Linked DNA regions of Homo sapiens. The protein of the gene in region 2 purifies or fractionates together with the protein of the main gene of each other region. This does not show direct contact. Each region holds a gene or a part of one and is shown on either strand. Other genes may lie near its edges.

Region 1 (3,813 bases), on a different chromosome or scaffold from region 2:
AGTGAAACTTCATCTCAAAAAAAATTATAAAGAAATAATATCAGTGACTAGTTAGTATGTTTCTGTAGGGCTTAGTACAGACATGTATTAATTCTTCTAACAACTTCTTGAGGTTAGTACCTTTACTCCTTCTTATCGTTAAGAAACCTGATGCTTAGGGATGGGCACAGTGGCTCACGCCTGTAATCCCAGCACTTTGGGAGGCCAAGGCGGCAGGACTGCTTGAGCACAGGAGTTCAAGACCAGCCTGGGCAATATGGTGAAACCCCGTCTCTACCAAAAATATAAAAAATTAGGCATGATGGCACATGTCTGTGGCTCCATTTGTTAGGGAGGAGGGTGAGGTAGGAGGATTGTTTGAGTCAGGGAGGCAGAGGTTGCAGTGAGCCGAGATCGCACCACTGCACTCTGGTCTGGGTAACAGAGTAAAACCCTGTCTCACACAAACAAAAAAAAGATATAAAAGAAACCTGATGCTTAGAAAGGTAAAAAGGGCCAGGTGTGGTGGCTCATGCCTGTAATCCCAGCACTTTGGGAGGCCAACATTGCTCAAGTCCCAGAGTTCGAGGCTGTGATGAGCTATGATCACACCACTGCACTCCAACCTGTGTAACAGAGCAAGACCCTGTCTCAAAAAAAAGACTTGGACTGGTTCAGGTCAAGTACCCACTCCACAGCTAGAGGGATGGGATCAGCCTCTCCCAAACCACAGGAGTGACTGCCGGGGAAGAGTGATTCCTCGAGGGTAAATTGAGATGTTACTATCAAAAGAAGAGAGATTGAGATTGCATTTGGCTAACGGTTTAAATAAAGAGGGTTTATTTTCTCAAGTAAAAGAAAGTCTAGAGGTAATTTCTAGCATTGGGTCAGCTACGCAACTGTGTCATTAGAGACCAGCCTCTTTGTAGCTTTGCATTCTAGTATCGTTAGTGTTTTGGCTTTTATTCTAATGCTTAGTACGTCATGGTCTCACATAGCTGCCATCACTTCAGAAATCGAGTCTGAGTTCAAGGCAGAAAGAGAGAGACTAAAAGCCATGTTAGCTGTGTTTGTCCCTTGGTATTAAGAAAACAGAAGCCTTCCCAGAAGTGCCCCCAGTAGACCTCTCAAGGGTCAGAATTGACTGGGTAACACAATCAACTGCAGCAGCAAAGGAGGCCGAGAAAGCTTCTGGATTTCCAACCTCTGGTGGGAGGCCATGAGGTAAAGAGGGTAGGAATGAATTTGTTTTGGGCCAACCAACCTGTTCTGTTTTCCACAAGGTTGAAGGTGACAACTGGTATCTACTGCAAATGTCAAACTAAGACTTTTGGCCAGGTGCGGTCGCTCACACCTGTAATCCCAGCACTTTGGGAGGCCAAGGCGGGTGGATCATGAGGTCAGGAGTTTGAGACCAGCCTGATCAACATGGTGAAACCCCGTCTCTACTAAAAATACAAAAATTAGCCGGGCATGGTGGTGCATAATCCCAGCTACTCGGGGCTGAGGCAGGAGAATCGCTTGAACCCAGGAGGCGGAGTTTGAAGTGAGCCAAGATCACGCCACTGCACTCTACCCTGGGCAGCAGAGCGAGACTCTGTCTCAAAAAAACGAAACAAAAAACCTAAGACTTCTATGCGTAGTTTGCGTTCTTTATATTGTGTCCATTTAAATGACAACATCGTGACTCTTAATTGGGACCTAGGAATTTACTTAACCAGTCTCTTGGTATGAAGTCTCTAGATGATTTCTAGCTCTCAGTGTTTTCTTCTGCTGTCACCAATCCTAGGACAGAAACTGGAGGTCTTAAGTGGAATTAGTGAGGGCCACATCAACATAGGATCCCAGACTCTGAATCTGCCTCCATGCATGTAAGAGCCTCATTGTCAGGTCTCTTTTTTATTTCCAGATTTTGGGGAATGTCTCAGAATTCCAAAGAGTGGTTGAAGTGCTCCAGGACAGCGTGGACTTTGATATTGATGTGAACGCCTCTGTGTTTGAAACAAACATTCGAGGTAAGGGCTGCTCTCTAGGACCTTTAAAAGAAAAAAGAGTGTGAAGTTGCCTCTGTAAACCAAGAAGTGGTAAATAGGATTTTAAGGACTGACCATGCCAGGACCCTTGGCCAAAACCTCTGACCGACAGAGCTCTTCTTCCCTCCTGGAGGGTGAGGTGGGGAAGTCTCAGGATTTCCCCATCAGTTTCAGATATGAAAGTGAGCAGGAGACTAAGAGACTGGAAAGAAATACACCAGATTACTCACCTCTTTAATATGTATTTGATACTAGGCATACAGCTATGAACAAGAAAGATATGATCCTTGCCTTCTTGGAACTTATTGTCTGTCCAATCCAATTTTCTGCAGTGATGGAAATGTCTTATAGCTGTGTTTTGTCCAGTATGGTAGCCACGAACCACATGAGCTATTGAGCATTTGAAATGTATCTACTACAACTATGGAATTGAATTTTTAATTTCATTTAATTTTAATGATATTAAATTTAAGTAGTCACATGTAGTTAGTGATTATTGTATTGGACAGTGCAAATCTACAGCATTAATCTTCCAAACTTGGCAGCCCATAGGAACCACTCCCAAGTGGTTAAAAAATTCAGATGTTGAGACTCCACCCTAAACCTAATGAATTGGAATCTCTGTGTTGGGTCCTAGAATCAGTATTTTTAGCAGACTTCCAGTGATTCTTGTGAAGCCAGCACAGCCCTTATTTGCATCGAACCTCTAGACCACTTAACAGCTGTCACCTCTGGATGGCAGAGTTCTATTTTTCCCCATTATTTTGTATGTTTTCTGCAATGAAACTTATATTCCAGACATATGATCCATAAAAGATTAAAAAAGAGAAGAGAGCAGAGGGACAACATGGTCTAAAATCCTGGTTTAGGAATCCGGCCTGAGTTTGAGGCTGTACTTGCTGCTATGTCTCCCAGCTTCTGAGCCCAGTTTGTCATCTGTAAATGAAGGTCATTCTTATACCTTTATTTCTGATAGGAATATAAGTGATACCAGCTTTCTTTTGGTTGACATTTTCCCATGTATCTTTTTCTATCCTTTCCATCTTTCTGTAGTTTTATGATTAGATACATCTTTTGCAAATAGTGTATTATATTTTGTTTATCCATTCTGACAATCTTTAACTGGCACATTTAATCCATTTACATTTACTGTAATTACTGATATATTTGCACTCATTTCTACAGTATTGTGCTCTCTGTGCCGTCTTCTTTTTTTTTTTTTTTTTTTTTTTTTTGAGGCGGAGTCTCACTCTGTCGCCCAGGCGGGAGTGTAGTGGTGCAATCTTGGCTTACTGCAACCTCTGCCTCCCGGGTTCAGGCGATTCTCCTGTCTCAGCCTCCTATGTAGCTGGGATTGCAGGTGCCTGCCACCGTGCCCTGCTAATTTTTGTATTTTTAGTAGAGATGGGGTTTCACCATGTTGGCCAGGCTAGTCTCGAACTCCTGACCTCAGGTGATCCGCCCCCCATCAGCCTCCCAAAGTGCTGGGATTATAGGTGTGAGCCACTGCACCTGGCCCTGTGCCATCTTCTTTATGTTCCTTTATTCTGTCCTTTTTCATGCCTTCTTTAGATTGTTTTCCCCCCATTCCATTTTCCTCTTACTAATATGGAAATTATGCACAATATCTAGCTTTTTACATAGTTTTCCAAGCAAATTTAACAAACATAACTTATCAAAGTCTAAATTTAATGAAAATCTTTGTTCTCCTCCTGAATAATGCAAAACCTGACTTAGAGAACATCCTGACCTATATGCTACAGTTATATATTTTAGTTATTTGTTTTAAACCTTCCATACA
Region 2 (4,525 bases):
TGCACATCACGTTCTAAATATTCCTATTATTTCATCTTCATAATAGCCTGGGAGGTATGTGCTGCTCTAATTGTCCTCATTTTACAGATGAGCAAATGGAAGATGGGCAAGTTCAGCGCTTGCCTGGAGTAATTCTGTTCATACGACTCGTAGACAGGACTTAGATGTAGAAAGTTTGAATTTAGAAAAATATCCAGCCTGACAAAAATAATCTGTGAACGCATTTTGTGTAAATATCCAGCAAAAAACAGTTATGCATAACCTAATTAAATAGAATGAATATCAACTGTAAAAAAAAGTTACAAATAAACTTAATTTGGTGAATTATACTTACAAAACAACAGAACACTTGACTTAGCCATCATTTTGACCCTGCCTCTTTATTTTCCTGCAGGCCTGTTTTTCCATTCTTGGGGATTTTAAGTTGGCACAGCTCAGTGGAGGCTGGCCCCGAAGTCAGGAGATGTGGTCCAAAGCCCGGCTGGGCGATTAACCCTGTGGATCTCAGCTTCTCCTCTTCCGGGCGAGCATGAGCCTGAGGGTCCCAGGGCTCCCCAGGTCCCTTCCAGCAATTGGTCACACCCTGCTCTAGGTTGAAGGGAAGACTGAGACCCCAATTCTTCCCATATTTAGAATATCAAAGGCCGTTAACTTCTCATTGTTAATCCAAGGACTCTCCCTCTCCAGAAACAACATTTGGTAACCTGGAAATCCTCACCTTCCAGGAATAGAGAAACATTCCTCAGAAGAAGAGAAATGCTTGGCAGCACCTGCAGACCCCCCACCCATCTGCTGCTGGGACCCCCCCCCCAAACCATCTGCTCCCCCCAGTGCCGCCCCAGGGGTCCTTGGTGATTGTTTCATCTGTCCTGGCTCCGGAAGCAGCACGGCCTGCGGCCGGAGTCAGCACCAGGCTGAGCAATGCTGAGCACCAGCTGTGCAACCTAGGGAAACTTACTTAACTTCTCTGTCTCAGTTTCCTCATCCGTAGAATGAAACGTAGCGTCATGTAAAATGCCCACCTCATCGGGTTGTCATGAGAGATGAATTCGGCAAATGAAACTTCACCAGGGGCTGACTTAGCCCAGCGAGCCACAGGCATGGGTTACCGGAGCAGAATGTGCCTCTGGGTCTGGGGCGCTTTCTACTCTAACTGCCCGAGGCAGCTGCAGTAATAATGGTGGTGCTGATAGGGCCTTTCTATGGAGCTCTTAAGAGGGTTTAATGACAGGAGCGAACACTTGGCCATGAGCTTAGAACAGTACCTGCATGCAGTAAGCACCACAGAACGGTGTTAGAATACACAGCTCAGGTACAGCCTTGGCAGGCTCTTCCCACCTCCCCACCTCATCAGCCCACACTGCCGGGTACGTCGCAGTCCCCTAAGGACAGCTGTGTGGGGCTGGCCCTGCAGAGGCCAGCCAAGAACAGGATGGTAAATGCGAAAGTTCTGGATGCCCAGCTTCATAAGGACAGGTTAGAAAAACTAAATCAAACTCCTTTGACGAAACCAGATCCTACTGTCTCTGCCTTGAGGTAGATTCTTACAAGAGCAGGAGGCTAACAAAGCATCCCCTGCTGCGGATTGTCAAAGGACAGTGAGGCTCCATCCCACAGGAAGGATGAGCAGCCAGGCTACCTGGCCTCAGCCCATCCAGGGACACCGGGCATGCATGGATGGAGCCACGGATGAGCCAGTGCCGCTCACCCCTGCCCCAGCCTCTGCACGCCACACATCCACGTTTATGCTTGTGTTTTTCCAAAAGAAAGATTTCGGTGCCTGTCTGCAGCAGAATGTAGTTTGAATTTGCAAAGGTCTTTTAAAACTCTTTTCGTATGAACAATCAAAGTAAAAGATAGCTTTGCAGAGAGCTAATTGTTTACCGGCCGTCCACCACCAACAGCAGTCTGATTAAACACCAGACTCCTGGGTGCTCAGCTCCCAGTCCTGGGCAGCCAAACCCACCTTCCTTAAGTGGTAGCCAGGCAACCTGCCAGCTCGCTTTTCATATGCAAACTGCCCCAAGACTGTTAAAAGTCGCTGTGTGTCCCGGCAGTCACAGGATTTTCCATAGACTTACCACAAATACTCTCTAGTTATGTTCAAAACCACTTTTCAGCTGCTAATAATGTTAACAATCAGAGTCTCTCTTTAATCTACTAATAATGTTAACAATCAGAGTCTCTCTTTAATCTACTAATAATGTTAACGATCAGAGTCTCTCTCTAATCTACTAATAATGATGTTAACAATCAGAGTCTCTCTCTAATCTCCAGTTACTTTTCAGATATTCCGGGAGTTGTTTCTAATTCTCTCCTCAATAACAAACTCTCATGTGGAATCTTCTTCTTCGGAAACTGAAAACATAAAGCGTTTACCCGGGTTCCCAGGCAGGTATATACATTGAAATAGCAGCAGCCACAACCCTCAGAGAGGAAGGGGTGCCCGGCTGGTGAAAGCACAGCCACGGAGGAAAAGCTGAGGAGCGGCCACGTGCCTTGCTCTTCAAGCGGGCAGTAGAAACACCACGTGAAGAAACACTTGCCATTTAGTGTTAATAGATACACCACCCACCTTAAGTTAAGAATCGAAATTGCTCCTTTTTCTTCTCCGCTTCTTAGAGTTCGAGAACTCTAATTTCTTAAAATTAGAGCACCATTAAATAATTGATTGAGTTTAAGAAATAATCGTACCTGGTTTGCCAAAAAGATGCAGTGATGACTGGTTTCAGTGTTCCGGACCGAGTCAGAAAGGCGCAGGCTCTGCTGGAGCGAGAGACCGGCCCTGCAGTGCAGGATGCTCCGGTGGACGTGGCCGAGCGGCTCCCGGGCAGCGCGGCTTTATATGCCGCTTCTCCTGTGCAGGGCTGTCAATCAGACACACGAGGAAGCACGTTTAATTCATTCCTTCGAAGGAATGACATCATCCCCCTTCTGATCTCACCATTTGCTCCGAGTACCTGCTGCAGGGGTCCAAGTCCAGCCCCTCTGTACTGGATGCCGTCTCCTCCTCCTGCACCCCGGCCCCTGCCAGACAGGCCTGGGAGGAGCCAGACGGAGAGAGGGAAGGCAGGGACTCACTTTTCCTGTCTTCTCTCAGGAAATAAGATGCTATAAATAACACTAGCAAGATTGGCTAGAACTCCTCATTTTGCTTAAGAGAAAAAAATGCAAGTTCTATGCCTTAAATATGTTTCGAATTACTCAATGTGATATTGGTCTTTCTAAACCAAATGAGTGACTCTCAATAACACATGAAATACATCGGTGAGTATCAATAATCAGTCTGTATATTAATAAAGTTATTATGGTCAATAATCAAGTGTATTATGTGACAAAAATGAAATTTAATATAAAAGGAAGTTGCCAACATTTATCTCAGGCAGTTAGAGGACTGAAAAGCTGTACTGCAGCTTTGGGAAAATTCATTTTTACCCAAATTCTGCTTCATTTGCTCAGTGAGGATCCCCTAGAAGGACGTCTCCCAGTGGACGTGCAATACCCGTAGAAGGGTGTGTCCCAGTGGACGTACAGTACCCGGCCAAGTCCCCTTGGTGCACACTTGCACGTGGCCCCATCACAGGAACAACCTGACGTGCAGGCACAGAGCAAGGACTCGAGAGAACGAGAAGCAGTGGCAGCAGCTAACCCCCGCCCCTCCCACACCTCAGGCATCACCCGCAATCAGGGTGCACTCTGCATGGGGGTGGGGGGCACCGCTTCTCAGAGGTCAGGGTGGACGATGGATGCGGAGGGGCTGCTTCTCCCAGGTCAGGGTATACAGTGGAAAGGGGAAGCTGCTGCTCTAAGGTGGGGGTTGATGGTACATGGGGGAGGGGCTGCTTCTCCCAAGTTGGGCTGGACAGTGGATGGGGGAGGTGCCACTTCTCCCAGGCCAGTGTGAAAGGTGGATGGTGGAGAGGCTGTTTCTCCCAGGTCAGTGTGCAAGGTGGCTGGGGATGTGTTGTTTCTCCCAGGTCAGGGTTAATGGCAGACAGGGGAGCTGCTGCTTCTCCTGGGTTGGGGTGGACCTTGGATGGGGGAGGTGCTACTTCCCCAGGTGGGGTGGATGGTGACTGGGGAGCTGCTGCTTTGCCCGGAGCCACCTGCACCTGCTTCATGTCGGCACCTGCCTGTCAGGTTCCTTCACGTTTGTGTGGAGTTGTCAGCCTGGCCATGGATCCGTCAAGTCCTAGTTAGAGAACATTAAAGCGAATTTCTGTGGACACAACCCTTACTGTGTCTGTGGCAGGGGAGTGTCTCTTAAGCCTCCTGGCATTCCCCCACAGGGGTCCAGCGCTGCAGAGGTCGGCAGGCACCATGAAGAGCAAGCCTCACTTTCTGGCCTCTGTCTTCAGGGAGGATATGCGAGCGGGTGTGGGAGAGGGAAGGAGCTTTCATTTGTGAAAACCTCTGTTTTTCCTAATGGCACCTGTTTATTTATCACTTGGCAAACATCAGTTTCCGACACATGCACAGACAAAAGCCTCCAAGAGTGTATGTGTCATGTTTAAGGTACGTTATT

What was found.
Region 1: the proteins of THBS2 (region 2) and EDEM2 purify together in Homo sapiens (affinity purification with mass spectrometry; 2 studies listed by BioGRID and IntAct, with this or other methods). This does not show direct contact.

What each region holds. Positions count from the first base shown.
Region 1 is NC_000020.11:35,140,554-35,144,366, reverse strand, and holds part of EDEM2 (ER degradation-enhancing alpha-mannosidase-like protein 2 isoform 1 precursor), read left to right. Parts: intron 1-1,888; coding exon 1,889-1,994; intron 1,995-3,813. Other genes in the region: MMP24-AS1-EDEM2 (ER degradation-enhancing alpha-mannosidase-like protein 2), read left to right, coding at 1,889-1,994. UniProt on the Homo sapiens protein: Involved in the endoplasmic reticulum-associated degradation (ERAD) pathway that targets misfolded glycoproteins for degradation in an N-glycan-dependent manner.
Region 2 is NC_000006.12:169,251,030-169,255,554, forward strand, and holds the start of THBS2 (thrombospondin-2 isoform 1 precursor), read right to left. Parts: upstream 2,818-4,525; 5' UTR 2,695-2,817; intron 1-2,694. UniProt on the Homo sapiens protein: Adhesive glycoprotein that mediates cell-to-cell and cell-to-matrix interactions. Ligand for CD36 mediating antiangiogenic properties.